4 linked regions of the Homo sapiens genome follow. The protein of the gene in region 2 interacts with the protein of the main gene of each other region in a pairwise test. Each region holds a gene or a part of one and is shown on either strand. Other genes may lie near its edges. The genes, in order: TAOK2, MEGF10, ARHGAP32 and RACGAP1.

The links.
Region 1: the proteins of MEGF10 (region 2) and TAOK2 interact in a two-hybrid assay, tested with the Homo sapiens proteins (one large-scale study listed by IntAct).
Region 3: the proteins of MEGF10 (region 2) and ARHGAP32 interact in a two-hybrid assay, tested with the Homo sapiens proteins (one large-scale study listed by IntAct).
Region 4: the proteins of MEGF10 (region 2) and RACGAP1 interact in a two-hybrid assay, tested with the Homo sapiens proteins (one large-scale study listed by IntAct).

The regions. Positions count from the first base shown.
Region 1 is NC_000016.10:29,981,122-29,988,398, forward strand, and holds the end of TAOK2 (serine/threonine-protein kinase TAO2), read left to right. Parts: intron 1-539; coding exon 540-633; intron 634-737; coding exon 738-819; intron 820-1,612; coding exon 1,613-1,780; intron 1,781-1,929; coding exon of another isoform or gene 1,930-1,950; coding exon 1,951-2,211; intron 2,212-2,381; coding exon 2,382-2,543; intron 2,544-4,091; coding exon 4,092-4,457; intron 4,458-4,536; coding exon 4,537-4,740; intron 4,741-5,143; coding exon 5,144-6,859; 3' UTR 6,860-7,237; downstream 7,238-7,277. UniProt on the Homo sapiens protein: Serine/threonine-protein kinase involved in different processes such as membrane blebbing and apoptotic bodies formation DNA damage response and MAPK14/p38 MAPK stress-activated MAPK cascade.
Region 2 is NC_000005.10:127,441,938-127,450,201, forward strand, and holds part of MEGF10 (multiple epidermal growth factor-like domains protein 10 isoform a precursor), read left to right. Parts: intron 1-1,060; coding exon 1,061-1,189; intron 1,190-3,519; coding exon 3,520-3,756; intron 3,757-5,619; coding exon 5,620-5,747; intron 5,748-7,161; coding exon 7,162-7,285; intron 7,286-8,264. UniProt on the Homo sapiens protein: Membrane receptor involved in phagocytosis by macrophages and astrocytes of apoptotic cells. Receptor for C1q, an eat-me signal, that binds phosphatidylserine expressed on the surface of apoptotic cells. Cooperates with ABCA1 within the process of engulfment.
Region 3 is NC_000011.10:129,180,006-129,188,269, reverse strand, and holds part of ARHGAP32 (rho GTPase-activating protein 32), read left to right. Parts: intron 1-8,264. UniProt on the Homo sapiens protein: GTPase-activating protein (GAP) promoting GTP hydrolysis on RHOA, CDC42 and RAC1 small GTPases. May be involved in the differentiation of neuronal cells during the formation of neurite extensions.
Region 4 is NC_000012.12:49,999,667-50,007,930, reverse strand, and holds part of RACGAP1 (rac GTPase-activating protein 1), read left to right. Parts: intron 1-1,294; coding exon 1,295-1,497; intron 1,498-2,538; coding exon 2,539-2,675; intron 2,676-3,626; coding exon 3,627-3,696; intron 3,697-5,630; coding exon 5,631-5,684; intron 5,685-6,678; coding exon 6,679-6,759; intron 6,760-8,197; coding exon 8,198-8,264.

The sequences.
Region 1 (7,277 bases), on a different chromosome or scaffold from region 2:
AATCTCAGGGCTTTTTACAAAGCCCTTCTCTGAATTCCCTGAAGATATGCTAGCTTGAAGGCTCACTGCATACTCTCAACTTCCCAGCCACTTCCCTGTTTCCCTCTTATACCAGTTAATACTTTGATGTTATTTTTTCAGTCCTATTTAATCTTTTAGACTGGAGGTTCCTTGAGGGTGGGGCCTAATTCTTGTTTTTATCTTCCCCATAGCAATTATCAAGTTATCTGCTCCCTTTGGCACCTAAGAAATATTAGTTGGGGTGATAACTGAATGGCTGTCCTTCTGCCTTCGTTACTGCTTTTGTGGATGTTATTTTCTTTGACCCCTATTCCACCCGTGTGCAGTGGAGAGGATGGGTGTTGTATTTTACAGAGGAAGGAATTAACTGAGACGCAACAGGATGATGGGAACTTCTCAAGGTCATGTGGCAAGGAAGTCAAGGAATTGGGGTTTGAACCCAAGTCGTCTCAGTTCCATTCCATTGTCCTCTACCCCCTGCCACCTCTCACCTTCTTCCCTTTCACCTTTTTCTGTAGCTGAACGGAAACCACCGCTCTTTAACATGAATGCGATGAGTGCCTTATACCACATTGCACAGAACGAATCCCCCGTGCTCCAGTCAGGACACTGGTGAGGACTGAGATTCCGAATCTGGGCCCAGGCGTTAGGCCATGGGGTATGGATGCCTGACTCATGCCTTCCCCACCCCTCTCCCACCCTCCTGTGACTTTCAGGTCTGAGTACTTCCGGAATTTTGTCGACTCCTGTCTTCAGAAAATCCCTCAAGACAGACCAACCTCAGAGGTTCTCCTGAAGGTGAGGGCCTGCTGGCCTAGCATTCTCCTGGAACTGTAGCTTGTTACAGCCACAAGAACCCCCAGGGAAATTAGTGGTTCCCAGTTCCTCCTCCACCAAGAGCTTCGTTGATGAATTCCCACCCCATCCCCAATGCCTAGTGGACTCTGTGTTTTACAAGATTTTGTCTACCAGACTGCCTTAATTTATTAAGTAATAAACTGTTTTCCCTTCTTTTATTAATCAAAGATTTATATAATTGCCAGCCAGAGCTTCTGGTCAGCATGTGATAACCAGGGTTGCCCCACTGATCTGATGTAATGCAAGCCAAAAGCCTGTGTAGCCTTATCATGGGTAAATGTATGATTTCCCTTAGGTGTTTTTTGAATTATCAAAAATGGAGGGGCCCCATTCCCTTCACAGACCCATGGGGGCCTGAGGAGCCGTAGTTGGAAACTTCAGATTATGTAGTTGGACCCACTTGTTTTATAATTGTAGGATACTGTATGAAGCCCAGAGGGGCCTCATGACATGTCCAAGGTCACATAGCCCTTTAGTAGAGGAGCTGGACGAGAATCCAGTTCTCCTGACTGTCCCTGCCTGTCAGCCATGCTTAGAGGAAGAAGAGTCTGTCTGGGGAGTAGGTACTGGGTGGTACAGAAAATTGTGAGAGAAGGGCTTGGGATAAGGCCAGCATCAACCCGTGGTGGGCGTGGGCCCCAGAAGAGTGCCTCAGGCCTGAGGGAATGCCAAGGGCTGTGGGTTGTGGGGGGAAGGGGAGTTGGCAGCAGACCTCAGTGCCCTCTTCCCCCAGCACCGCTTTGTGCTCCGGGAGCGGCCACCCACAGTCATCATGGACCTGATCCAGAGGACCAAGGATGCCGTGCGGGAGCTGGACAACCTGCAGTACCGCAAGATGAAGAAGATCCTGTTCCAAGAGGCACCCAACGGCCCTGGTGCCGAGGCCCCAGAGGAGGAAGAGGTGACCCAGCTTGCCCTAACACCCCTCTTTATACCCCATGTGTGCCTGCCCCCTGCAGTTGCTTGGCCCCTTCCCCAGCCCTACTCACACCACCATCTTCCCATGCTACCTCCATGCATATGCCCCAGGGCTTCCCCTTCCCTGTCCAGCAGCCTACGCCCTGTTCGCAGGAGGCCGAGCCCTACATGCACCGGGCCGGGACTCTGACCAGCCTCGAGAGTAGCCACTCAGTGCCCAGCATGTCCATCAGCGCCTCCAGCCAGAGCAGCTCCGTCAACAGCCTAGCAGATGCCTCAGACAACGAGGAAGAGGAGGAGGAGGAGGAGGAAGAGGAGGAGGAGGAAGAAGGCCCTGAAGCCCGGGAGATGGCCATGATGCAGGAGGGGGAGCACACAGTCACCTCTCACAGCTCCATTATCCACCGGCTGCCGGTACACAGCTCACCCTTGGGGGACCCGAGCCACCTGCTCTAGAACTGCCTGGGTCTTCGCCCTCCTTCCCTAAGTGCAGCACTCCTCTGAGTCTGATTGGCTGTCCTCAGGTAGCTCTCTTTGGACCCAGTGGCCTCTGAGCCTTGGGTGTTCCTTCTATCTCCCTCTAGGGCTCTGACAACCTATATGATGACCCCTACCAGCCAGAGATAACCCCCAGCCCTCTCCAGCCGCCTGCAGCCCCAGCTCCCACTTCCACCACCTCTTCCGCCCGCCGCCGGGCCTACTGCCGTAACCGAGACCACTTTGCCACCATCCGAACCGCCTCCCTGGTGAGTGTAGCCATCCTCACTCAGCCTGCTCGCTGTCTGTTTTTTAAGTCTTTTTAAGTCTAGAAATGATTTCCTCCCTGTGGCATGGGATTGAGTCTGGATTCTACCCTCATTTTCTGTTGCTGGCTCCTGCCTGCTCCCCTTAACCCTCCTGCTTCCCTCCTCTTCCCAGTGGACTGTTTTGGTCATATGGCCCAATCTGGGTGTTTCTAGCTTGGCAAACTCTTACTCCGTTTTTGTGGCCTGACTTAACTGACATCTCCTGGGTTGCCTTCCCAGGCTCCTCTGGTGAGTCAGATGCTTCACAGTTGTGTGCTGGGGAAGCCCAGTGCTGGGGGAGCCCTGTGCCTGTGGAGCCCTGTGCTGGGGGTGTCCAGTGCTGGGGAGCCCTGTGCCGGGGGTGCCCTGTGCTTGGGTGGTCCTGAACAGCATCATGATAGGTTTGCCAGATTCTGTGCCCCAGAGGGCAGGGATGGTGTTCAGATATCTGTCTCATGCCAGCAGTTAGCTCTCAGGCTTACACACAGGCCTGTGTTAACCCTCCCAGCCCCCCTGGGAGGGGAAGGGTAAGATCCCATTGGAGAAATGAGGCACCTGTGGCTCAGAGGGGCCACTTGCCCCAGTGCCTTTGGTGGCTCTCTGCTCCTGTAAGCAGGCCCTTAGTCCTCTCCTAAAATCAACTCATGGCAGTCTTTCTCAGTTCACAGGAAAAAGTGTTTAGGCTTTTCATAAAACATAGTTTTTCATCTATGTTTTTAGATCACGTTCCTGCTGAGCTGCATTTGAGCGTCAACAATCCCCTTAGAGGCCACTGATTAAGTCTAGTATGTTCTTATGGCCTCTGCTTGGTGCTGGTTGTGTTCCAACAATTCTTCAGATCCCATGGTGTTGTGCGGTACTGTGCTGAGAGGTCTTGACTGCCAGGGGCTTGGCTGCCGGGACTAGTTTGAGAGCCACTCATAGAGTCAATTGAGAATGAGACCTGAGATCAGACTTTGGATGAAGGTGTCCAAGCCCAGTGTTCTTGTTATTCCAGCATCTTGTGGCCCCGATCCCACCTCAATACCTGGGGAGTGATAGGCCGACCATGTTTGCTGAAGGGGAAGGAAGCCAACACTTATTAGATAGAGTCCGAACTTACCCCACAGCCCCTATGAGGAGGTATTATTTCCCCATTTAACAGATGAGGGAACTGGTGCTTTGAGAAGTTAACTTACTTGAGATCACATGCTTGGTAAGTGGCAAAGCTGGGATTTGATCCCAGGTATGTCTGACTCACTGTTTCAAATTAGTATGGATTGTTCCTACTTTTGTGCCAGGCCCTGTGCTCGCCACCTTTTATCATTCGGCCACACCAACTTGTGATGTAGATAATATCACCATTATCCAGTTGAGGAAACAGGCTAGAGTGGCCGTGTGTGAGGAAGGTGTTAAATGAGAATGAAACCCATGAGTTGAAAACCCATGCTCTTCCCCACGGAAGACCCCTTGTGTTAATTAACTAGGGGCCAGGCTGAGCCCCAGCTCTCACCCTCTCTCCTTCCCCAGGTCAGCCGTCAGATCCAGGAGCATGAGCAGGACTCTGCGCTGCGGGAGCAGCTGAGCGGCTATAAGCGGATGCGACGACAGCACCAGAAGCAGCTGCTGGCCCTGGAGTCACGGCTGAGGGGTGAACGGGAGGAGCACAGTGCACGGCTGCAGCGGGAGCTTGAGGCGCAGCGGGCTGGCTTTGGGGCAGAGGCAGAAAAGCTGGCCCGGCGGCACCAGGCCATAGGTGAGAAGGAGGCACGAGCTGCCCAGGCCGAGGAGCGGAAGTTCCAGCAGCACATCCTTGGGCAGCAGAAGAAGGAGCTGGCTGCCCTGCTGGAGGCACAGAAGCGGACCTACAAACTTCGCAAGGAACAGCTGAAGGAGGTGAGCTAGGGCTGCTTGGGGGCGGAGCCGATGGCGAGCCAGGTGGGTCCTGACCCTGCTTCCCTCTGCACTCGCCCAGGAGCTCCAGGAGAACCCCAGCACTCCCAAGCGGGAGAAGGCCGAGTGGCTGCTGCGGCAGAAGGAGCAGCTCCAGCAGTGCCAGGCGGAGGAGGAAGCAGGGCTGCTGCGGCGGCAGCGCCAGTACTTTGAGCTGCAGTGTCGCCAGTACAAGCGCAAGATGTTGCTGGCTCGGCACAGCCTGGACCAGGACCTGCTGCGGGAGGTAGGCATCCCAATCTCTGTTCCCCTCCCGCTCACTCGTGGATCCCAGGGACCCACCCTTTTCCATTTTCCTCATTCTTGTCTTCTTTCTCCTTGGCCCTCGAGTGTTACAGTTCAGCTTTGCTTCAGTGCCCCTTTTACTTCTCATCCCCAACAGACCCTGCCAGAATTTCCTTAGGCCTCTTTTCCCAGGCCAGGGAGGAGCTTGCCTCCCCTACACCCTCATCTCCTGCCATCCCCAGCTCCCTCTGCCAAGGAGCCCTGGCCCCTCACTTCCTTGATACTGACCAGGCCCTGGGCCCTGTGTTTCTTCCGCCATCCCCAGCTCCCTCTGCCAAGGAGCCCTGGCCTCTCACTTCCTTGATACTGACCAGGCCCCGGGCCCTGCATTTCTTCTGCCTCAGGACCTGAACAAGAAGCAGACCCAGAAGGACTTGGAGTGTGCACTGCTGCTTCGGCAGCACGAGGCCACGCGGGAGCTGGAGCTGCGGCAGCTCCAGGCCGTGCAGCGCACGCGGGCTGAGCTCACCCGCCTGCAGCACCAGACGGAGCTGGGCAACCAGCTGGAGTACAACAAGCGGCGTGAGCAAGAGTTGCGGCAGAAGCATGCGGCCCAGGTTCGCCAGCAGCCCAAGAGCCTCAAAGTACGTGCAGGCCAGCGCCCCCCGGGCCTTCCACTCCCCATTCCTGGGGCTCTGGGCCCACCCAACACAGGCACCCCTATAGAACAGCAGCCCTGCTCACCTGGCCAGGAGGCAGTCCTGGACCAAAGAATGCTTGGCGAGGAGGAGGAAGCAGTTGGAGAGAGAAGGATTCTGGGAAAGGAAGGGGCCACTTTGGAGCCCAAGCAGCAGAGGATTCTGGGGGAAGAATCAGGAGCCCCTAGTCCCAGTCCACAAAAACATGGGAGCCTGGTTGATGAGGAAGTTTGGGGTCTGCCTGAGGAGATAGAGGAGCTTAGGGTGCCCTCCCTTGTACCCCAGGAGAGGAGCATTGTTGGCCAGGAGGAGGCTGGGACATGGAGCTTGTGGGGGAAGGAGGATGAGAGTCTTCTGGATGAGGAGTTTGAGCTTGGCTGGGTCCAGGGCCCAGCACTGACTCCCGTCCCTGAGGAGGAGGAAGAAGAGGAAGAGGGGGCTCCGATTGGGACCCCTAGGGATCCTGGAGATGGTTGTCCTTCCCCCGACATCCCTCCTGAACCCCCTCCAACACACCTGAGGCCCTGCCCTGCCAGCCAGCTCCCTGGACTCCTGTCCCATGGCCTCCTGGCCGGCCTCTCCTTTGCAGTGGGGTCCTCCTCTGGCCTCCTGCCCCTCCTGCTGCTGCTGCTGCTTCCATTGCTGGCAGCCCAGGGTGGGGGTGGCCTGCAGGCAGCGCTGCTGGCCCTTGAGGTGGGGCTGGTGGGTCTGGGGGCCTCCTACCTGCTCCTTTGTACAGCCCTGCACCTGCCCTCCAGTCTTTTCCTACTCCTGGCCCAGGGTACCGCACTGGGGGCCGTCCTGGGCCTGAGCTGGCGCCGAGGCCTCATGGGTGTTCCCCTGGGCCTTGGAGCTGCCTGGCTCTTAGCTTGGCCAGGCCTAGCTCTACCTCTGGTGGCTATGGCAGCGGGGGGCAGATGGGTGCGGCAGCAGGGCCCCCGGGTGCGCCGGGGCATATCTCGACTCTGGTTGCGGGTTCTGCTGCGCCTGTCACCCATGGCCTTCCGGGCCCTGCAGGGCTGTGGGGCTGTGGGGGACCGGGGTCTGTTTGCACTGTACCCCAAAACCAACAAGGATGGCTTCCGCAGCCGCCTGCCCGTCCCTGGGCCCCGGCGGCGTAATCCCCGCACCACCCAACACCCATTAGCTCTGTTGGCAAGGGTCTGGGTCCTGTGCAAGGGCTGGAACTGGCGTCTGGCACGGGCCAGCCAGGGTTTAGCATCCCACTTGCCCCCGTGGGCCATCCACACACTGGCCAGCTGGGGCCTGCTTCGGGGTGAACGGCCCACCCGAATCCCCCGGCTACTACCACGCAGCCAGCGCCAGCTAGGGCCCCCTGCCTCCCGCCAGCCACTGCCAGGGACTCTAGCCGGGCGGAGGTCACGCACCCGCCAGTCCCGGGCCCTGCCCCCCTGGAGGTAGCTGACTCCAGCCCTTCCAGCCCAAATCTAGAGCATTGAGCACTTTATCTCCCACGACTCAGTGAAGTTTCTCCAGTCCCTAGTCCTCTCTTTTCACCCACCTTCCTCAGTTTGCTCACTTACCCCAGGCCCAGCCCTTCGGACCTCTAGACAGGCAGCCTCCTCAGCTGTGGAGTCCAGCAGTCACTCTGTGTTCTCCTGGCGCTCCTCCCCTAAGTTATTGCTGTTCGCCCGCTGTGTGTGCTCATCCTCACCCTCATTGACTCAGGCCTGGGGCCAGGGGTGGTGGAGGGTGGGAAGAGTCATGTTTTTTTTCTCCTCTTTGATTTTGTTTTTCTGTCTCCCTTCCAACCTGTCCCCTTCCCCCCACCAAAAAAAGAAAAAGACAAACACAAATAAAATATCTGAGCGGAACTGTG
Region 2 (8,264 bases):
GCTCACAACAGAGACAGCCCAATTTTAGTTTTGCATCACTGTTTCATTGAGTCATGAAAACAGATCCTGACTGAGTGACACAGTTGCATACATAACTCTATTGTGCATATAAATATTGTGTGTTTGTGTATAAATGTCTAAATATGCATGGAAACCAGAATAGGCTCAAAATTTTACTTGAATGCCAGATGACTGGTTAAGGTCTTATTAAATAAGAAAACCTCTTAAGTGCTTCCATGATTACTCTCAACAGCAAATTAAAGTGTCCCTATTTTTGGAGACTTCTCCCAATGCTTATTTGTAAACAGAAACCCTGTGTTTGACAGAGAGTTCTAATAATAATAGCACATTGCCCCCTGCTGCTCACTTTATGAAAAATATCAATATTTTGTCACGAAGATTTTTAGATTTAACATGCTTACACTATCCTTTGAAATTCATGCCTAACTCTTATTAAGACCGCATAGTAAGAATCCTATTACTTTCGTCTTCAAGACTTCAACAAAATCCAGAGTTTGAATCACTCCATAGCAAATGAAGTTCTTACCTAGAAAATCAGCAAAACTTGTTGTTTGCATCTTCCCCTATTCCTGGCTAATTCAATTGAGAATGTGCGTTTATGAAGATCCCTGAGCCTACAGTAAAATATATATGTTCTCAAGAAAGCATCTTTAGTGCTCTTCAGTCTAGGCCCCTTCCAGCCTACAGTTTTGCCTGGTGGACTTGTATCAAATTGCCCTTAGTGATTATCTTCATCTGTTCCATGGGAATTCCACAGACTCTCCATATACACATCATAGAGGTAAGTATGTAGCAGCTGAAAGTGTCAGGAGCTCTAATGTTGAGCAGCCCTGTCTCTAGCCCTGTGCAGTCTGGACTGTGAGTGCCACCATGATTCCAGGAATGCTGTCCAGTTCTGGGACACTCTTGGGGGTACAAGTCAGCCTCAATAGGAATCCCCTGAAAGGACTCAGCTCTAGATGTGCAGGGCTTGCAGTCAGAGACAGCCTTGCTCCAAATTCCCAAGGTTGGAAAGCTACATTTGACTTTCCTTCTCTAGAGTGCCCTTCAGGAACATATGGCTATGGCTGTCGCCAGATATGTGATTGTCTGAACAACTCCACCTGCGACCACATCACTGGGACCTGTTACTGCAGCCCCGGATGGAAGGGAGCGAGATGTGATCAAGGTAAATATACTAGCTAATGTTTGTAGCACTGCAGTATTGTGTGAACACCATGTACCAGGCAATGTGAAGTATTTTCACTTATGTTATCCAGCAGAATCTTCACCACAACTCTAAATGGCATAATTGGTTACTTATTTAATTGCCAGATGAATGCCTTATTGTTGCTGTCCTGCAGATAAAGAAACAAAAGCTTAGAGAGGCTGAGTAATTTTCCCAAAGTCACATAGCTAATACTAGAATATGTCACAGCTTTTGTGCCAGATTTTTGTTATTCCAAAACTCATGAACTTTCTACTGGGTCTATGATTTTTTTTCAGCTTTATTGAGGTGTAATTGATACACAAAAAACACACCTATTTAATGTGTACAATTTAATAAAATCTCGACTATCTATATACCTATGAAACCATCACCATAATAAATGAAATATCCATCACCATGTGTTTCCTCATGCCCCTCCCTACTTCTACCACCCCTTAAGCCCCAGGTAATCACTCATCTCTTTTCTGTCAGTATAGATTAGTTTTCATTTTCTAGAATTTTATATAAATGAAATCATACTGTACTCTTTTGGGTCTGGCTTTGTTTACTCAGCATAATTATTTTGAAATGGAACCATGTTGTAGCACATATCAACAATTCAGTTCTTTTCATTGCTGAATACTATTCCATTGTATGGATATACTATAATTTGTTTACCTGTTCATGTGCTGATGGACAGGTGGATTGTTTCCAGTTTGGGGCTATTACAGATAAAGCTGCTATGAACAAGAGTGAATCCAGTTTTTGCATGGACATGTGCTTTCATTTCTCTTGGGTAAATACCTAGGAGTAGAATAATTGGGGTATATAGTAGACATATGTTTAACTTTTTGTAAAACTTGTGCCCCTGGTTTTCAATTGGGGTGTATGTCATAACGACCTGGGAATAGTTGTCAGGTACATGGTCCTATTTGGGAAATTCCGATTCCAGGGTTGGGGACTTTGAGAAAGTGCTTCTGATGGTTCTGAAGCATGCCCTCCAGAGAGCCACAGCTCTTACTGCATGTGGTACTCCCTGGTAGGCAATAAGCAGTTGGGCTATAAAAGGCTTTAGAAAATTGATACACTGTTGTAGATGGAGTAATCTTAAACTGCAGACCATGTAAATATTTACAACATTTAATTTCTTTGGTAAAATGACTTTTACATGCTTATGATTTACATTTGACTGTCATAACAATAGAATGTGATCTTTCATTATCACGTCATAATTACAAATACTCTGTAATCTCACTACATTATCCTTGGTGGTCTGTGTTTCAGGGCAGATTGTTTTGTAAAAAGGTCCTTCAGCATTTAGAATCATAAAATCATAGGAACATTTACTTGAGCTGGAAGCAGTGACATGGAGGCCTCTTTTCTCATTTATAGATGATAAAACTGCAGCCTGAAAGCTTAAGTGAAAGTTCAGAATATCTAGGTCAATTTTTTTAGATGCCAGATTTCTTGAATCTCAACCCATGCCTTTAGCGTTATCACTTGACGGACCATAAGGAAGAACTATGTAATGCCCAATTTTGAATTTAATGAGTAAGGTATTAGGGTAATGCTATCAGGTATTATCAGGACAAATCTTTCTGTCATGGAAAATAACTTTGCACAGAACAATATCTTCTGAGGTAAAAGACCCATTGAAATTAGCAAAAGGTAGATCCTGTTCTTAGACTAGATTTATAATGGTGTTATGCTTGCTTGGAAGGAAAATTACTCTTAGAAATGCTAAGGATAGACATAAAATTTGGTTAAGCAGTTGGGACATTTAGCATTTAACTCTGCATAAGCTCAGTATTGAATAATAAATAAAGCAAAATAAAAATTAGATAAATTGTTACCCCAAATTAATTGCCAGTCTAAGTATTTAATCGGAAATATATAAGAAGCTCTCAAATCCTACTGTTGAATCTCTTTGGGTTCAGAAAATCCTGTCTCTTTCTTTATATTTTTTTAGGGACAGGGTCTTGCTATGTTGGCCAGGCTGGTCTCTAACTGCTAGGCTAGATCAGTTCTCCCGCCTCAGTCTCCTGAGTAGCTGGAACTCCGGGCACGCATCACTGTGCCCAGCTTCTGTCTCTTTTTGAGGCTTACAGCAGCCTTTCTCTGGGCATGGATAGGCCGACAACATCTGACAATGAGGAATGTTTGCTTTTTCTTCCTGCTCTGTTTCCAAATTAATGTTTTATGAACTGAAAATATGCAGGCATTAGCACAGAAGGAGGTTTTTGTAAGTAGAGATCAAACGTTTATCCAGCACATTGTCATCCTTTCTCAAGTCTCTCTTCTTTTTCTAGCTGGTGTTATCATAGTTGGAAATCTGAACAGCTTAAGCCGAACCAGTACTGCTCTCCCTGCTGATTCCTACCAGATCGGGGCCATTGCAGGCATCATCATTCTTGTCCTAGTTGTTCTCTTCCTACTGGCATTGTTCATTATTTATAGACACAAGCAGAAGGGAAAGGAATCAAGCATGCCAGCAGTTACCTACACCCCTGCTATGAGGGTCGTCAATGCAGATTATACCATTTCAGGTAAGAGCAGAGGCAGGAGAGGCATTTTGCTTCTTGAAAAGTTAAATTTCATTCGGGTTCTTTAAAACTGGGTGTTTGGCTGTGCTGTCCATTGTTTCTGTCAATTCTCATTGAGAGAATTCTATGTTTGGAAAAGGTATACATTGCTAGAGATGAGTTTTTTATTTCAACAATAGTAAATTGTCATTCTGTGGTTTGCTATAAGGGTTTTAAAATTGAGCTCATTGTGTTTGTGGTTTAGATTTAGGGAATTTCAATCCATAAGGAGCTTTGTATCCAGCCTCAAGCTTTTGTCATATGTGAGGGGGGTGAGGAGGAAGAGAGGATGATAAGTTTACCAAGGTCATGGATCAGATTAGGGACCAGTTCTCCTGTCTCTGAATGAGGGTACTTTCTATGTGCTTCCCAGCCTCTCCCTAGGCCTACCCGAATCGTTAACTGAAGGGAACAAAGTTATATCAGAAACAGCTTTTTGGTATTAGCAAGAACCAAGGCAGCCCTTTAAGAAAACTCTTGATTTTTTCTGTTCTGTCACAATGCCTCATAAAAGGAAAAATAAAATTATAATCAATCATCAGTAGAAGCAACCATTTACATGGAGGAATTTAAAAGTTTAAAATCTTTATTACTTTTTGGGTGATTATTGAAGGCCTTCTGGTTGGTTACATGTTTAAAACTACAAAATTCCGTGGAAATATGAGAAGTAGCTGATTTACATAGTAGTGCATTTTCAGTGCAGAATTATTGTGTCAAGAACTCAAGTGTTTAAAAAAAGGAAAGTTGCAGAGTAGCTTCAAATGATACCTTCCCAGCTGTACCAGCCCCAAAGCAAAGAGCAGTTATCTGTGGATACTGTGAACAAAAGTTCTCTGAAAAGGAATTTGGGGGAAAGAGATTTTATTCCAGTGAACGGTTTGCAAACCCAGGAGTTGCAGCCAGTGTAAAATGAAAGTGCAGTTCAGAGAACAAAGGGAAGGCTTGGGTTTTATAGCAAAAGTCCCCACCCAGCTTCCAATCAGGCCCTTTTAGGAAAGTGAAGGATTGAAACTGGTTTAATTCTAATTGATCAGTGCAGCTGAGTTCTGGTTGGTTGACACAGCGGAACCCTGATCCTTTGATAAAGCTAAGCCCTGATTAGCTAAGGCAGGTAAGCTCTGATTGGTTGGTTCAGCTGAGCTCTGAAAGACCCAAAGATAAAAAGCTGGGTTTTCAGGGAACTCAGAGTACAGGTGTGATCCTTAGTCAGCAAAGGCCTGCTTGACTCGATTTTAAATTTAGGCCTAGGCAGCCACTCCTATGGATCTTAAATAATTGGTTCTTTCAGTTTCACATTTGTTCACAAGCTTTCATACTTTTCCAAGGAGGCAGTTAGGAAGGTAGAGGCCTGTTGCTTCTAGAAGCTTTGCTGAGTAGGCTGGGCAGGAGGAGATTCTGCCCAGCTTGTGATATGGAAGGAGTCCGGACATTTGTTCAGTTATTTATTTATTTGTTTTTTTATTTAGAGATGGAGTCTCGCTCTGTCACCAGACTGGAGTGCAGTGGTGCGATCTCGGCTCACTGTAACCTCTACCTCCGGGGTTCAAGCGATTCTTCTGCCTCAGCCTCCCGAGTAGCTGGGACTACAGGCGCATGCTACCGTGCCCGGCTAATTTTTTTTGTACTTTTAGTAGAGATGGGGTTTTACTGTGTTAGCCAGGATGGTCTCGATCTCCTGACCTCGTCATCTGCCCGCCTTGGCCTCCCAAAGTGCTGGGATTACAGGCGTGAGCCACCTCGCTGGGCCTGTTTTGTTATTTTGATTCCCTTTTTTCACACACATTTATGGGAGCCTGCTGCCTTAACCATTTCCTTCCCTTCTTGCAGGAACCCTTCCTCACAGCAATGGTGGAAACGCTAATAGCCACTACTTCACCAATCCCAGTTACCACACGCTCACCCAGTGTGCCACATCCCCTCACGTCAACAACAGGGACAGGATGACTGTCACGAAGGTGAGAGGAATTGGTTCAAGTCTTTGGAAGTGGGCTGGGGAGAGAGGAAGGGAACCAGCATTTATTGAGGGCCGCTGTTCACCAGAGGCTGTTCTAGGTACTTTACATATATTATCTAATTTATTCCTCTAAACAGTCCTCTGAGTGTGCTTTGGGAATCTCAAGTTTACTGATGAAAACCTGAGTAGTAGGGAGTTTAAGTTACTTCCAGACATAGCTGCCCGATAATGAGTGAGGCAGCTGCTGTGTGAGTCAAAGTCTCTCTGTCTCTACAATCTGTACTGTTTCCATTACACCGCTTTAGAAAAACGTTTCTAATTTTACATGAGATTTTAAAATAATGACTCATAATGACATTAACAAAAACATAAAGACCTATAGCAGAATCAGCCGTGGGCAAAATCTCCAAGTGTGTCTCTTCTGACCGCCCGTCCTCCAGTACCCGTTCCTGGCCACCTGTGCTTTAGTAACAACAACAGTAATAGGCACTGATTTGGGTTGAACCACATGAAATTGCTATTTTTGTAGGTCAACAGTGGTCACATAGCAACAACCTAATATTATGTGCCAAGCATTTCTAATCACTTAAAAATATAAACTCATTTAATCTTCACACCAGTCCTATAAATCAAGAGTGATTATTATGCCGATTTTACAGATGAGGAAACTGAGTCACAGAGAGGTTGGAGACAGAGTGTCTAGAACCCAGAGCTGCTACTCCAATAGCACCCAACTCACCCCAGGTCTTCCCCACAATGCTCTGAAGTCTCAAACATTTCTTTCTTCCAGTCATACCCAAATTATATTTCTAATCTCTGTTGTCTAATTCCAGTGCTCTATTAGAAAAAAAATCAAGCTAATTAAGTTAATCCAGTTGTAATTTAATTAATGCAGCTATAGATTTTAATTATAGTGCTTCATGGTTAAATATCACTCCACATACCCCAGAGACTTTCACATTCATCAATTTATTCTCATACAAATTCAGGGAAGGAGGCAAAGCAGATAATCTTATCCTCATGTTTACGCCTAGGATAACTGCTAAGAGTCACCTGTGATTCACACAAACATACAATTTTTGATGGAAGAACTTAGACCAAGAGTTCTTTTTTTTTTTTTTTTTCCAAATCAAAGTTACATGTGTATAAATCCAAATAAGGTCTAATTGGCACAGGATGACAGAGTGAAATGAAGATCTTGAGGTGGTGGAGGGAGTAGCTAGGACTGAAGGACATGAACTCCTGCCAGCTTGCAAGTCCCACCAGGTTACAAGCAGTCACCTCGGCCCCTGAGCTCAGGTCACTCTAAGGACTGGTCCTCAATATGTGCCCTGGACTTTTCCCCAGGTCCATAACGCTGTGCTGTGCCGCATTGTATTTTGTTTTTAATCTTTCGTTGTTTATATTTTTAACAGTCAAAAAACAATCAACTGTTTGTGAATCTTAAAAATGTGAACCCTGGGAAGAGAGGCCCTGTGGGGGACTGCACTGGGACATTGCCGGCTGACTGGAAACATGGCGGCTACCTCAACGAGCTCGGTGAGTTCTCCCAACGCACGTCCCCAGAAGCACCTTGACCTGTCAGTCCCTGAAACAGTCACGGATCTCTGTTTGTGCCAAGGTGTTCTATTGAAAACTTGCATCAAAAAGCACAATAGCAGAATTATGCCTAACACCTGTACAGGGCTATCTACTGTCCTAAGGGCTTTATCTATTCAACAAACATTTATTGAGTTCCTACTATGTGCCAGGAATTGATCAAAAGAGATTGGGATCTCTGCCTGCTCGTAGCTTACATTCTTGCTCTATGCCTGTTAACTTAATTCTCACAAGTACTCTAATAGGTGGGTACTATTGTTATCACCATCTGCATGTTACAGTTGAGAAACTGAGTCATAACAAGGTTATGTTACTTGCACAGGACCTCATCGCCTGTTAAATGTTAGAGCTAGTATTGGACCCTGTCAGCTTGGCTCACAGCTGTGTGCTCTTCCTTGTTCTCTTTTGATATAGGGTATCTGTACTTGAGATCCCCTTCCCTTTCAGGTGAGGAATCAGAGATACCAACAGGAATACAGTGGATCAGTGGTTCGGGCAACTTTTTGAAATTAGGACTCCTTTGCATTCTTAAAATTTATTGAGGACCCAAAAGAGCTTCTGTTGATAGGGGCTATATCTATTTATATTTACCATACTAAATGAAATTTAATATGTAAATAAAAACTGGAAAAAATAGAATGTTAATTTATTTAAATTAATAATAATCACATTTCATGGTAACATAAATTGTGTTTTTATTAAAAAAAACTACATTTTCCAAAACCCTTCAAAATTAGCGAGAAGAGCAATGCTATTTTACATTTTTATAAAAAAATCTCTTTAATGTCCAGCTTAATAGAAGATAGCTGGATTATCATGTCTGCTTTTACGTTCAGTTGGTTTTGATCTCATACTTTATGTAGCTTCTGAAAAACTCCACTGTACACTTGAAAGAGAATTAGAGTGAAAACGGCAAATA
Region 3 (8,264 bases), on a different chromosome or scaffold from region 2:
TAACAATTAACTGAGGCTGGGCATGGTGGCTCACACCTGTAATCCCAGCACTTTGGGAGGCTGAGGCAGGCAGATCACCTGAGGTCAGGAGTTTGAGATCAGCCTGGCCAACATGGTGAAACCCTGTCTCTACTAAAAATACAAAAATTAGCTGGGTGTGGTGGCGGGTTCCTGTAATCCCAGCTATTTGGGAGGCTGAGGCAGGAGAATTGCTTGAACCTGGGAGGTAGAGATTGCAGTGAGCTGAGATTACGGCACTGCATTCCAGCCTGGGTGACAAAATGAGACTCCATCTCAAAAACAAACAAACCTCAACAAACAAAAAAACCACACAAAAAAACCAAAACAAAAAAACCCAATTAACTGTATGTCCATAAATACCATATCACACCCAGGCCCATTTTATACTGTGTGGCTTTTCAAAGGCACCACATCTTTAATAACCTATTACTTATGATGTCAAAAAAGATGTATATTTTGCCCAAAAAGCTACAACTTATATTGTTTTGTAACCTTGAAGAAACATCTGGGATTTAGTTTAGCCCCTAAAATATTATTTTAAAAAATTATTTTTAATTTTAGGGGGTTCATAGTGGGTATATATTTTTATGGGGTACATGAGATGTTTTGATATAGGCACACAATGTGTAATAATCATATCATGGAAGATGGGGTAACCATCCCCTCATGATGGGATATCCATCCCCTCAAGCATTTACCCTTTGTTTTATAAACAATCCAATTATACTCTTTTAATTATTTTTCAGTGTACAATTAAATTATTATTGACTATAGTCACCCTATTGTGCTATCAAATACTAGGCCTTATTCATTTATTCTAACTACTTTTTGGACCCATTAACTATCCCCACCAGCCTCCCACTATGCCCCCACCACCCTTCCCAGCCTCTGGTAACCATCCTTCTACTCTCTGTGTCCATGAGTTTAATTGTTTTGATTTTTAGATCACACAAATAAGTGAGAACATGTGATGTTTGTCTTTCCGTGCCTGGCTTATTTCACTTAACATAATGACCTCTAGCTCCAACCATGTTGTTGCAAATGACTAAATCTCATTATTTTTTATGACTGAATAGTATTCCATTGGGTATAAGTACCACATTTTCTTTATCCATTCATCCATTGATGGACACTTAGGTTGCTTTCAGATCTTGGCTATTGTGAACAGTGCTGCAACAAATATGGGAGTGCAGATACCTCTTCAGTAGACTGATTTCCTTTCATTTGGGTATATGTCCAACAGTGGGATGGCTAGATCATATGGTAGCTCTATTTTTAGTTTTTTTGAGGAACTTCCAAACTTTTCTTCATAGTAGTTGCCTAATTTACATTCCTGCCAACAATGTGTGAGGGTTCCCATTTCTCCACATTGTTGCCGGCATTTGTTATTGCCTTTCTTTTGGATATAAGCCATTTTAACTGGGGTGAGATGATCTCTCACTGTAGTTTTGATTTGCATTTCTCTGATGATCAGTGATGTTGAGCACTTTTTCCTACGCTTGTTTGCCATTTGTTGCCGTCTTTTGAGAAATGCCTGTTCAAATCTTTTGCCCATTTTTAAATCGGATTATTACATTTTTTCCTATAGAGTTGTTTGGGCTCCTTATATATTCTGGTAATTAATCCCTTTTTGCAAATATTTTCTCCCTTGCTGTGGGTTGTCTCTTCACTTTGTTGATTGTTTTCTTTGCTGTGTAGAAGCTTCTAAAATATTCTTTTAACAGTAAGTATAACATTCACCCAACATACTCTCATCAGTGAATTTAATAGTAATCAGCAAAGTCTGATATGAACATCCCTTAATCTCAGAACATTTTAGGCAGTAATGGAGTCTAGCCATTAGGCTGTCTTCATAATCTGTGAAATGAATCTGTCTTAACCGTGAGGCATGCCAGTACAAGACTTTCTTGGTATTTTAGTAATTAAGCCCTTTGGGATGGAGTCCAAGGTGGGCCTTTCTTGTATCTATCTGTATGAGTATTTTGATGTTCAAGAAAGGCCCTAGAGTACACAAACGATATAGACCTGTATAAAAGTTCCTGGTTATTAGGTTGTTTAATTGAAGTTAAAAAGTTTAAACCCAAACCTAATTTTTCTAACTCTTGCATTTCACTTTGGCACTGAACTCTCTTAAATAGTCAATAGGACTTTCAAAAATAAATTGAAATCCCTGAAACATTTAAAGCTCTATTTATAAATTAGTTAATTTTCTTTTTTTTTAAATTAAATATGTCAAGTGACTAGCTTAGCAAGATGATATTCAGAGCAGGCAAAACCTTCCCAGATACTTAATTTTGGAAGTTGCGCTATACTTTTCTTTACATTAATGATTAGTTTCCATTTCCATGTTCTCATAATCATACATGTATTTTCTCTATTTGAAAATAAAATGATTTCTTTCACCCAGGTTTTCTCTCTCTCTTTCTGTGTATGTATGTTTGTGTTTTAAATCATGGTTCTCTCTTCTCCTCTACTTCTCTTCCTTATAAAATAAGATCTTTAGGAAACTTTAACTTCCTCCTTCTCTCAGTCTCATACTTCTAGATGAGACTTTTGAAACTCTTTTATTCACCCATTCTGCCTCCGTCAGTTTAATGTTTTTTGCTTTTCATTCAGATTTAATTATTTGTGTCATTTTTTTATTATTATTATACTTTAAGTTTTAGGGTACATGTGCACAACGTGCAGGTTTGTTACATATGTATACATGTGCCATGTTGGTGTGCTACACCCAGTAACTCGTCATTTACATTAGGTATATCTCCTAATGCTATCCCTCTCCTCTCCCCTCACCCCACAACAGTCCCTGGTGTGTGATGTTCCCCTTCCTGTGTCCAAGTGTTCTCATTGTTCAATTCCCACCTATGAGTAAGAACATGTGGTGTTTGGTTTTTTGTCCTTGTGATAGTTTGCTGAGAATGATAGTTTCCAGCTTCATCCATGTCCCTACAAAGGACATGACCTCATCATTTTTTATGGCTGCATAGTATTCCGTGGTGTATATGTGCCACATTTTCTTAATCCAGTATATCATTGTTGGACATTTGGGTTGGTTCCAAGTCTTTGCTATTGTGAATAATGCCACAATAAACATACGTGTGCATGTGTCTTTATAGCAGCATGATTTATAATCCTTTGGGTATCTACCCAGTAATGGGATGGCTGGGTCAAATGGTATTTCTAGTTCTAGATCCCTGAGGAATTGCCACACCTACTTCCACAGTGGTTGAACTAGTTTACAGTCCCACCAACAGTGTGTCATTGTTTAGTGTTTATGTTGCTTCTTCTCTGTATCACATTCTATCTTAATGTATCAGTTTTGGATCATTTGTATTTGCCTGATACGTTCTTAAGTATTTTTGTTCAGTTAAGTTCTCTGGGTGATATTCTCTGATTTCTTGTATAAGCTCAAATGCCAATCTGTTTTTTTCTTTTCCTTTGTAGGTAACATGTTCTTTTTGCCAGACTACTTGTTAAGAGTTTCTTTTTTATTGTTATGTATATTTTGTTACCCGTTCTTTAGTTTGGAGCTTAGTGAGTTCTTTATTTTGGAACTTAGTGACTTTCAGTCTACAGAGTCAAACCTTTGTGTTAGGGAAGAAATTTTTTTGTTTCCTATTATTGCCTTTGCCTCTATTAAGTCCCCTTAATCTTTTATTTTATGATATATTTCTTTTTACATTTTACTTTGTGAATTGAAGTTTTTTTGTACTTGTTCTCTTAGCTAATTTCATCTTCTTTTTTAATTGTTCAAATTCAATTTGAGTAGATAAATTATTTTTAAGGGTTCTTCACGTATAGATACATACACACAAGGTATTTTTATAATAAATTTAGGTTATTTTCTTTCTTTTTGAGCTTTGGAGCTTTATTCATTCAGTGTACATGTTCTGTTTTATTCTGACTGTTCAGAACCTATCTTTTAGCTGCTAAGCAAAGTATCTGCGCTTCTTTGCCCTTTCCCCTGCTGTGTTTTCTTCAGTAGCCCCCATGATGCATATGGCTCTGCCTTGCTTGTCTTAGGTGCACACACCCACATTAGGAGCCCTAGTCCTTCTGGTCAGTTGTTAAATTACTTTACAGGGTAATTTTCCAGTTTTTGTTAGTACCCTGGGGGCAAGCATCTCTCTTGTTGTGGAAAGGGGTGGGGTATAGCCTTTGAACTTCTGTTTTTCTCTTTAGGTCAGTATGATACCACTTGCTTTTAAGTTTTTCAGTCTTTTAGTCTTTCAGAAGTGTATCAAAGTCTGATCTCTGGCCTTCTGGTGCCATTCATACCATTCTGTTAAGGATTTATTTTTTCCTATTTAACTTAATGATTTTTGAGACACTTGGAGAAGGAGAGATTTGCTTCCTCACATATATGCAGTCTAGGATTGGAAGTCCACTGGGAAGTTTTTTTCATAGGTTTTGAGAGGAAACTTTTCTGCAGGGAACATTCACTGAGGCAGAATCGTGGTGCCTTTCATGCAATTTGGTGGGTCTTAGGAGTGTGAATGGCTGCTTCAGTGTCTTCTTCAGCTGGCAGGTGGGGTCTTCCAGAAAAAAATAGTTTACCACATCAGGAATGATGAAGATATGGTCAAGCATTCCACTTTTCCTATCTGCAAAACAGGGCTTAAAATAGTATATCAAACAATAACTAGTTAGAAGATACAATGGAAGAAAAAGTGCCACTTTCAGGAGCAACAAAGATGAGATACCAGAAATAAACTTAACAACAAACTCTAAAACCTACATGATAAAAATGTAAAACATCATTGAAGAACATAAAAGAAGTTTGGAACAATTGAAGAATATGTCTTCTTCATAACTGGAAATACACAGCACCATAAAGATGTTAGTTTAAGGTAATTTATAAATTTAATGTGATGATAAGAATCCTTTTTAAAAAACTAAATAAATTGATCTTGGCTAAATAATTTAACCAAGAAACTTTGTAGGAAAAAGAAAAAGAACAAGGGTAGTGGATATAGAGGACTTTTGCAACTAGATGTTGTATTGTGAAGTCTTAGTCTCAGTAATTAAAACCCATTGGTTGTGGGACATGAAGAGAAGTATTATGGGGTAGAATGGAAATCCTAGAAAATATACCCACGTTCATAGGAATATTTAGGTATGGTAAAGATGGCTTCTCAAAAGCTAATGGAGATGATATGTACTATTCAGTAAATAGTTTTGGAGAAACTGAATATTCACCTGTGGAAGTAAAGAAAATAGGAATCCTACCTCATACCAAGGATGAATTACAAATGATCAAAGATTTAAATGTACTAAATGAAAACATAAAAAATTTTTTAAGGCCGGGTGCAGTGACTCATGTCTGTAATCCCAGCATTTTGGGAGGCTAAAGTGGCAGGATCCCTTGAGGCCAGGAGTTTGAAACCAGCCTAGTCAACATAGCAAGACCCCGTCACTACAAAAGAAAAATAAAAAACTTAGCCTGGCATGGTGGTACCTGCCTGTAGTCCCAGGTACTCAGGAGACTGAAGTGGGAGGATCTCTTGAGCCCAGGAGTTTGAGGCTATAGTAAGCTACGATTACACCACCGCCCTCCAGCCCTGGAAATAGAGCGAGACCCTGTCTCCAGAAAAAAAAAAAAGGTAATAGAAAACATAGAGAATTAACACAATTTTTTTTTATAATAGGAAGGCATTTTGAACTATGATTTAAAGCAGTAAAAGAAAAAGCCATGAAGGAAAGGGTTGAGAAATGAGGCTACATAAAACAAAAAACATCTACATTACATAAAATATCTACATTACAATATATAAAACATCTGCATTACAAAAAACAAAGTAAGCAAGGACATATGACGACCTGGGAAAAATACCTGAAACTCATATTACAGATGAAGGATTAATCTCCTTGATATACAAAGAACTAAAAATGGTTAAGAAAAAGTCCAACAACCCAATAGAAAAATGGGCTAATATATAAAAATATTTTTTTTACTGTAGAAAATTTGTTTTTCAGATATATTTGTACATATATAGAATGACATATAAATGCACAAACTTATTGTAGCATTGTTTGTAATAGCAGTAGATTGGAAAGAATTTATTCAAGTACTCATCAGTAGGGGATTAGTTAAATAAATTAAGGAATAGCTACACAGGGGAACATTATATAGTTGTAAAAACAGCAAAGAAGTTCTATGTATTGATATGGAAAGTCTCCAGGAAAAGTTAGAGGAAAACAAGGTATACAACAATGTGTAAACCTACTAAGAAGCAGCATATTTACACATTGCTTTTATACTCTGTGTGGCTGTATTTTTTCATACATATGAATAATTTATGTGTGAATATATGCAGCTATAGTAATAAAGTTTAGAAGACTCTATTGGAAATTGATTACCTTGGCAGGTAGAGAATTTAATGGGTTGGAATTGGGCAGATTGGAGACAGGGATGGGAATAATTTTTCTTTATATGCCTTTTTGATTTGTGTATGGTTCAATTGTAATACATATGAAGAATTATAGTATATAAGACATTTTGAGTGGGAAGTGACCAAAACTGAATTCCAACTGGCTTCAGCAAACCTCTGTTCCATAGTCACCACCAATGTAACTGTCCTCATCGGTGTTAGAGGGTTAGTTTCTTTATTTTTTAGGAATTCTGGGAATATTAGATTTATGTAAGTGATTATTAGTCCACATAGGCTAACCAGAACAGAGTTCCTGTATTTTAAGAGGCTTTACAATTTAATTTATTAATATCCTTTGAAAAGTAGGAAAATTTATTGCACCCTATGATAAGCAGATAATGACTTTTATCAGTTCCAGGCACACAGAACGCTGGTAGTCTCAGATTTATATCATCAGCCGTGGGTAAAATGAATAGAGAACACCAAACTGAGCACTTCGGACATATCTCAAAGAGCTGTTCTCTCCAGTGGAATTGAGGCATATTTGTACACAGACAGACAAAAATTGACTAACAAACCAAATTCTCTGTTGCTAATAGAGAGTAGATATCAAATGGTCTGACCATAAAATGGACTTCCAGCCATTGTTGCCACCAGTGGATAGTAACTGGCGACAACTGTTGCAGAGCCAGAACCAAATTTGGCGAAGAATAAGAAATAAACAAAAACCGATCGGAAGAATAGAAAGAGAAAGATATCCTGCTTGGAATTTATTCCAGGGATGAAGAAAAGATATTCCTGGGAGTGAACAGTCCCTGAGGTGCAGTTCCTGGGTAATATGCTATATTTGTCTTGAGAAGGAAATCCGCTTGGACTTCTCTGTGGAACTTCAACATTGTCAAGTGTAATTTTTCATAAGTTATGAGCAAGAATCTCATACAAATAAAGTGAATATGTGACAGATATTTACATAATTTCTTAGTGAGGGAAACAGCAAGATGATAAGGCTGGTTCCCATAATCTTTCAATTTGGGGGAAGTAGTTTTCTCTCCTATTTTTCATTTTCATTGAATGCATTCAGGTTTAAGTCTGAAGATGTTTTACAGAAAACTCTGGTAAAAAATACAGCAGTAGGTTACTTAGGTATTATGGTTGGCAGCCCTTAACTACAGCTTTTTTGTTAGATATGAAACTACAATCAAACACTTTAAGCATAAAATTTGTCCATAATTTTAAAAGCATAGAACAAGAGAGTCAAATAAATGGATACTAAATTTCTTATTGAGTTGGTTCATCATTGCATGGCCCATAATGTATATATAAATATAATTTTTATACCTCTTAAACTGTGTAACATTTACCAATAAACTTTTACACTTTGAGGTATAACACATATAATAAAGTCTACAAATCATAAATGTACAGCTTGATAAATTTATACAAAATATATACCCAGATAATCACAACCCAATCAAGGTATAGATTATTTCTAGCACACACAAAACCTTTGTCCCTTCTAGTCAGTACTTCTCCCAAAGGTAACTTATTCTGACTTTGTCACAATAGATTAATTTAGCCTGTTCTTGAACTTAATGCCAATAGAATTATATAGCATGTACTCTAATGTCTGACTTCTGTTGCACAACATTTATGAGATTCATCTACTTTTTGCAAATTCCTTTTTATTTATGAGTAGTAGTCTATTGTATGAAAAATATTAAAACTAGTATTGTTGATTTATTTTTTCTCTTAATAAATAATTGTATATAGTGGTATATGTAAATACACGATTTTTTTAATATATTGACCATGTAAACCAGTGATCTTGCTAATGTATTAATTCTAAATTGCTTATAGAGTCTTTTAGATTGT
Region 4 (8,264 bases), on a different chromosome or scaffold from region 2:
TTTTTCTTTAAGCTAAAAAAAAAAACCCACAAAAAAGTAGTATGTTCCAGACTAACCCAGCATATTATTTCTTAAAACTATTTGAATTGTAATATTTTTTTAATTGTTGATATCCGCATTGTTTAAGATAACTAGGTCATAATAACCTATTTTGCTGAAATTTGTGGTTTGTAAAAACTAAAGTTTCCTTATTACTTGGTTTTTCTGGAACAAATTGGTATCCTGATTTGTAAGTTTGATATTTGGTCAAATGATTAAAATTGTTTAAAAAGGACTATGTATTGTTTCTATGCTTTTAGGTTAAATTCATAGGGGAAAAGTGCCCTTACTACCTAAGAATCTGCTAGCTGTGTGTGAATTTGGCCTAGTTTCAGTTTTAACTGGGTTAGTTTGACCAGCAGCAGATGTACACCTTGAGACCTTCTTCCTTGATGTTGGTGGAGAGTGATCCTTAGAGATAGACGGAGGTTAACTAGAAAATTGTAAGGCACTTTTGCAAATACATTGCAGAACAGCTTTGCCAATAGCAGGAGATAAGAATGAATGCCAACAGGGTTATCTTCTTCCTTTGAGATGCTGCCTTGGAAGTGATGTTCTCTTTGCAGACATTTGAAGAGACTTCACATTCTGCTATCAGGGATGTTCCAAAAGCTAGTTTGATCTTCTCTTCCTGTTTTTTTTTTTTTCAACTGGAATGTTTACATACCCTTCAGGGCAGTGTTAAACAGCAAAAGCAAATTGGCTTTTTACTTTCAAATCAATATTTGTATAATTATATAGCCAAATGGAATTGTAGGTCTAGACATCTGTAATATTAATCTACATCTACTGGAGCATATTACAGCAGTTACATTTGAATTTGCTGTTTAACATCTCTCTGGTGCAGCAATGCGTGACTGTAAAGGAAACTGTTTTTGTTTTATAGCTGTAACTGTCCTGGTGCATGACAGCTGCCCCAAAGGTATCCCCCTTTGATTGCCTTCTGTTCAGGAGCTTTCAGTGTTAGTGTTACATCTGGAGCCAGGTGACTAATGAGTTACATATTCCATAGCAGATGCCACTGGCTAAGCCAAAAGTAAGTGGCCTATTGAATAGGAATTGCTACCCACAAAGTTCTCATCAGAGTGACAAACATATCCAGGATCTGCTCCTAGTTATTTTCAGCTGGATTTGCCCATAGTTCAGCTGGTTCCTTAATTATGAATTTCAAATAAAGCTAACCGTAGGACTCATTTATTAGAGCAGTTATACTCTGTTTGGTGCTTGAATTATTAAAGATTCCCCCTTTCCTCAGAATTTATCCAGTTGGCGAAGGACTTTGAGGATTTCCGTAAAAAGTGGCAGAGGACTGACCATGAGCTGGGGAAATACAAGGATCTTTTGATGAAAGCAGAGACTGAGCGAAGTGCTCTGGATGTTAAGCTGAAGCATGCACGTAATCAGGTGGATGTAGAGATCAAACGGAGACAGAGAGCTGAGGCTGACTGCGAAAAGCTGGTGTGTATTGTTTTCCGTGCTAGAACAGTGATGATGCAGGAGGGGGAAGGCATTGTCTGACAGTTTCCACTTGCCAAATATACCTAGTTTCTTCTTCCACATTAAAGAACTGAAAGTGACCTGTTCTTTAACAGCTTGCCCATGATTAGAGCTGAAATTGCAGACTAGGAATCTTGTTCTTCATAATTTGAAATTTAAATGTTTTTGTCACTTAGACTTGAAACTTACTTAACAGACAGATTTCAAATGAGAACTTAAAGAATTAGAGGAAAAGGGAGGGAGGGAGATCCTAACGTACTTGATCTGTCACAAGTTATTGGCCATCCTTCATTGTTTATTTTAAGTGCTACCCGGAATATCCATCCTTACATGAGTAGCTGGTACTTTGTCATACATACAGGCAAGACAACTGTGACTCTTCTTTTCATCACCCCTCTCTAATTCAGGGTAAAAGGCTAGATGTATTCAACCAGTTGAGCAATGTGACTGACACAGAACACTATCATTTTGATGTGCCAGGATGGGTCATAATGCAAAGGAAAGCCTTTACTGGGAGGGACTAATCCATCTTGGTATACAGTGTTAGATGCCTCAGTAAACTCAAATTGTCTGGTTCCAGTGCATTATAGCTTTGTATCCATTTTAATGCATTTTGCTCCACTACTTTGAGAGGTGGGTGGCTGCTTTGATCCGTAGAAGCCAATATTTGTCCTGATAAAATGACACTAAAGTGTTTTTGCTATGTGAAATCTATTTTGGGACTCTCATTTTGCATTATTCTCCTCTTGGATTAGCAGGTTAATCCAAAAGTCTTGTAGCAGAAACTTCGCTGTTCTAGATGTAGTTCATTTTACCAGTCAGAAATCAGAGACACAATCTGGGTTTGATGTGAATTAATATGCTATTGGTGTAGCAGCCTTCCTGAAGGTCCATTTGCATAATGCTGCATTTTAATGTCTTCTGGTCTGCCTGTCCCATAAACTTGAGGTGAAGCTTTCTCCCCTGGCTAGTTATGATGTTTTACTTTGCTTTGGTCTGTAGGAACGACAGATTCAGCTGATTCGAGAGATGCTCATGTGTGACACATCTGGCAGCATTCAACTAAGCGAGGAGCAAAAATCAGCTCTGGCTTTTCTCAACAGAGGCCAACCATCCAGCAGCAATGCTGGGAACAAAAGGTGGAGGAACTGCATCTGTTGTTATCCTATCACAAGCAACACAGGCTGTCAGATATTCTTGTTATCTGAATTCTTAAATATACTTCTTCTAGAATGTGTGCTGAAAAAAGCAGAAAAAGATTTTGTGGGGAGAGTAGGTGGGGAATAAAGGCACAGGGATGTCCCTGTATATTTTATTTTATTTTATTTTTAAATCTTTCCTAAGGATGTTGTTTCACCATGGATACAATTTTGATGTTGGTGCTAAATTGCACATCAATAACTAATCCTGTGCATTGCTAAGAAACCCAAAGGTGAAAGTGGCAGTTCAGCAATACTTTCAGTGTTTACTCTCCAGAGAGCTCTTACAGCTCTTCTGGTTTAGAAAGGCCTCTGTGAGCCAAGACCAGACAATAATTTTGGTTCCACTGCACCACTGTTTAAAATAGTCTCAACCAGGCTTTGAATTTAACATCCCCAGTACAATATGTAGGGAAAGGTCAGCTATTTATTTTGTTGCCTGGTTGTTTTATGGGGAATCTTTATAACTAAGAAGATGTACAGGCTTAATTTCTTAAAAAGTCAGTGTTGGGTAATACTCTTGTTTGTAGAAACCAGCACAGTTGGGATCAAATTAAACTTCATTCCCTTGATTTTGTGAATTTGGAGTAGCCTGTAATACAAACTCGGTAGAGAATAGCACCCATAACCCTGACTAACTTTCAACTGCCCTTATAAGGTCTTTGCTGAAAAAGCAACTGTGTTGCACCTGTACTCATGCACACACACTCCTCCGTGGAAACCATACAAAGTAGCCTACCACAGGGTTTGAGATTGTAATTGTCTCTATAGTGAAGATTTTGCTATGAAATTAACTGATGTTACCTGACCAGTAGGACTTGTTCTGAATGTTGGTGAATTTTACATTCCACAGTCTACCATGTCTAACGTTGTATTGTTTCACTGATCTAGACTATCAACCATTGATGAATCTGGTTCCATTTTATCAGATATCAGCTTTGACAAGACTGATGAATCACTGGTAATAAACATTTGATCTCTGAGAATTACCTACTTTTCTTACCTCTGCTTCCCCAGGAATATCTCTCCTGTCTTCTCTTCTGAACATCCTATATTACTATTTTATTAGTTGATGTGTTATAGATTCTGAGCTAGCAATTTAAAATATAAATCCACATGAGCTATAAGAGGCTGGCTTATATATTAGTTTCTGAAGTGAGAATATATAATTCAGAATTTGGCATAAGTTGAGTTCATTTAATAGATCTCTGTGTGCCACATGTACTAACTGATTATATTTTGACTTATTAAAGCCCCAGCTAATAATAAAAATATTAGCAAGACTGTATGTCGTCAGGGTTTATTTGCTGCTCTTAAATAGACTTGTGCCTTATTTCTGAATTAGTTTGGTTCTTGGGGAAAGCATAGTCATACTTCACAATTAGAAGGAAACCAAGGTCCTGGGATTTCAGCCAGAAAAGTGTGATTAGAGTTTCTAGGCACTATATAATGCTTTCATCAACAATGGTTAACATGTTAAACTATTTGTTGCCCTGCTTTTATGGGGCGGCACACTTCTTTTAACTTACAGTGATGCTTCTGCATAAAAGGTCATCTCCTGATACAGTCTTTGATATAGTTCATTGATTTGTGCATCTTTTCTGTTACTAGCTGAAAACTAGCAAACAAAACAAATCAGGAAGTTTTTGGTGACTGGTTTTCTGGTATAGCAAAACAGGTGACAACTATTTGTTACATGGCTAGGAGTTTTCTGTTCAGATTCAGTGTTTGACCAGGGAAAATACGGCCATTTTATAGATAAAAATATTAGGCATCACCTTTCTCAAATAGGGAATGATATAGTGGAGGTCTGGAATATATAATAAAACTAGATCATATTATCAGTTGATTTTTGAGCTAGACCTATGATACGATATTTCTTGTAACTGAAGCTGAATCAAACAACCAGTAACTAAATTACTGGACCATGACTTGGGGAAGTTAAATTTATTTAGCTAAGCTATTATTTGCTGTATACCACTGTTTCTAGATACTGTTTTCAGGGATGATCAGGAGTAAGGAAATCACAGGTAACTACTAAAATGAATGCAAATAGTTAAAATAGGTGAATTGAAATGAGACCACAATAAAAGACAAATAGTTCTTCAGTGGTGGACACGTTTTAGGGCCTAAGTTCCTAAACTGTAGAACTTTTTTTTTTTTTTTTTTTTTGAGACAGAGTCTCACTCTGTCACCCAGGCTAGAATGCAGTGGCGCAATCTCAGCTCACTGCAAGCTCCGCCTCCCGGGTTTATGCCATTCTCCTGCCTCAGCCTCCAGAGTAGCTGGGACTGCAGGCGCCCGCCACCACGCCTGGCTAATTTTTTTGTATTTTTTTAGTAGAGACGGGGTTTCACCGTGTTAGCCAGGATGGTCTCGATATCCTGACCTCATGATCCGCCCACCTTGGCCTCTCAAAGTGCTGGGATTACAGGCATGAGCCATCGCCTGGCAACTGTGGAACTTGTGAAGTGGCAATATTATGCAGAGCATTTGATTAGACAGTGGCAATCCCTTGGGGGCAAGAATCACATCTAATACAATCAGTATAGTGCCTAACATTCTGTAAGTTCTAAAACTAATTACAAAAATAATCAGAAATAAAGGATCAGCCACTGGAAATATGGCAGAATTTGATTCTTTAACCTCTTCTTGCCTCTGTGGTATTGATTCCTGATTTTATTATAATAGCTTCAATTTTTCAAAGAAAGCACATTAACTTACTATAGCTCTATAGCTACAACACTTGAGACCTTCCCTTCTCTAACCCTCCCCGAATTGTACGTTAGGTAGCCTGACTGAAGAAGCCTTTAAAGTTCTCTGTAAATTTATTTGCACAGGGTTTAGGGATGGCCTAACCAAAAAAAGAAATTAATACAGTGTAATTGTCAACAGGATTGGGACTCTTCTTTGGTGAAGACTTTCAAACTGAAGAAGAGAGAAAAGAGGGTATGTATGATTTGTTTAGTCTTTTTTTAAAACAAAGTAATAATGGAGTTATTTTTGGAAATTTTGCCATGATACTGCATTCCTGTCATGTTGCTCTAGCCATTGTTAAGCACATACTACAGATGAATTCATGCTGTGGGGACAGTATTGATATTCTTTTTTTTTTTTTTTTTTCTTTTTTTTGAGACGGAGTTTTGCTCATTTCCCAGGCTGGAGTGCAATGGCGCGATCTCGGCTGAACGCAACGTCCGCCTCCCGGGTTCAAGCAATTCTCCTGCGTCGGCCTCCCAAGCAGCTGGGATACAGGTGCCTGCCACCATGCCTGGCTAATTTTTGTATTTTTAGTAGAAACGGGGTTTCACCATGTTGGCCAGGCTGGTCTTGAACTCCTGACCTCAGGTGATCCACCTGCCTCGGCCTCCCAAAGTGCTGGGATTACAGGCGTGAGCCACTGCTCCCAACCAGTACTGGTACTCTTTGAAGTAGTAACTTAGGACAGAATCCTGTCCATTTCACTGTTTAGGCTGCATTTCAATTCATTCATACAGTGGAAAAGGATAAACTTAAGTTTGTTTTGAATTGTCATATGAATTTTTACACAGAACTTTTGTGCTCTAATATAAGCTTCATATAATGGGATATATAGAGATCTATCTGTGTATGCTTGTTTAGGGTACTTAATGTGTTTCCAAGACTTCATGTCCTTAGTTAGGATTACAGCTGTACTTTTTCTGGTGGTGTCATCTAAATTTCTCCATAGCTTGCTCATTTTTTCTAGGGCACTGAGAGCATTTTTGTACAACATATTCTTTTGAAACAGCTTATTCTTCATGTGGAAATAGGCAAAGAGAGAGAGAGAGAGAACACATTGTTTGTTATTTACTGTAGCCCTAATCCCCAGGACCTGTATCCAAGTTGTTTGATGGAATAATTTTATCTTCTGTGCTTCAGATCTGCTTGGCATTAAAGTTACGGGTCTTTGTCTCCTTTCTAGCGCTCTACTAGCCGACAGTTTGTTGATGGTCCCCCTGGACCTGTAAAGAAAACTCGTTCCATTGGCTCTGCAGTAGACCAGGTAAGAATAGTCAGGCCAAGGTAACAGAGATTACTGGCCCCAAGCATTAAAACTTCTCTGAGTCAGCATTGCAGCATTGTTTTGAGAGACATGATGTTTAGTTAAAGTTTTTGTTTGTTTTTTGAGACAGAGTTTTGTTCTTGTAGCCCAGGCTGGAGTGCAATGGCACCATCTTGGCTCACTGTAACCTCCACCTTCCAGGTTCAAGTGATTCTCTTGTCTCAGCCTCCCACGTAGCTGGGATTACAGGCGCATGCCACCACGTCTGGCTAATTTTTGTATTTTTAGTAGAGACAGGGTTTCATCATATTGGTCAGGCTGGTCTCGAACTCCTGACCAGGTGATCTACCTGCCTCAGCCTCCCAAAGTGCTGGGATTACAGGCGTGAGCCTCCGTGCCTGGCCTTTGGTTAAAGTTTTTCTATGCAGTAGGATCCTTATCCCTATGAATGGAATTACTCTGATGTAGTAAACAACTGTCAGAGTGAGTCTTAGTTGCTTGAATATATACCCCCATGACCTATGTTTATCTTCTTAGGTACGAGATTTCTTTATTTTTACTTTTTAAAGTAGAGGGGGAGTCTCTCCTTGCTGCCCAGGATGACTCGAACTGCGGGGCTCAAGTGATCTTCCCACCTTGGCCTCCCAAAATGCTGGGATTGCAGGCATGAGCCACTGCACCCAGCCAAACATCAGATTTCAACATAAGAATGTTTCAGGTCAGGCGTGGTGGCTCACGCCTGTAATCCCTGCACTTTGGGAGGCCTAGGCAGGTGGATGATCACCTGAGGTCAGGAGTTCGAGACCAGCCTGGTCAACATGGCGAAATCCCGTCTCTACTAAAAATACAAAAATCAGTCGGCCAGGCGCGGTGGCTCACGCCTGTAATCCTAGCACTTTGGGAGGCTGAGGCGGGTGGATCACGAGGTCAGGAGATTGAGACCATCCTGGCTAACACAGTGAAACCCCATCTCTACTAAAAATACAAAAAATTAGCTGGGCATGGTGGCAGACGCCTGTAGTCCCAGCTACTCGGGAGGCTGAGGCAGGAGAATGGCGTGAACCCGGGAGGTGGAGCTTGCAGTCAGCCGATATTGGGCCACTGTACTCCAGCGTGGGCGACACAGCGAGACTCCGTCTCAAAAAAAAAAAAATCAGTCAGGTGTGGTGGCGCATGCTTGTAATCCCAGCTACTCAGAAGGCTGAGGCAGGAGAATGCCTTGAACCTGGGAGGCGGAGGTTGCAGTGAGCCGAGATCACGCCACTGTTCTCCAGCCTGGGCGGTAGAGTGAAAAACTCTGTCTCAAAAAAAAAGTATCAGACTGGGGTCTTAAGTCTTGACTAAGACTAAGGAATTTTTTACCTGCTCCAAAATACCCTATAGTGGAGGGTAAGTTAGATTCTTTGTTTGTCTTTCCTCATTACTACTTTTGTTGCAGGGGAATGAATCCATAGTTGCAAAAACTACAGTGACTGTTCCCAATGATGGCGGGCCCATCGAAGCTG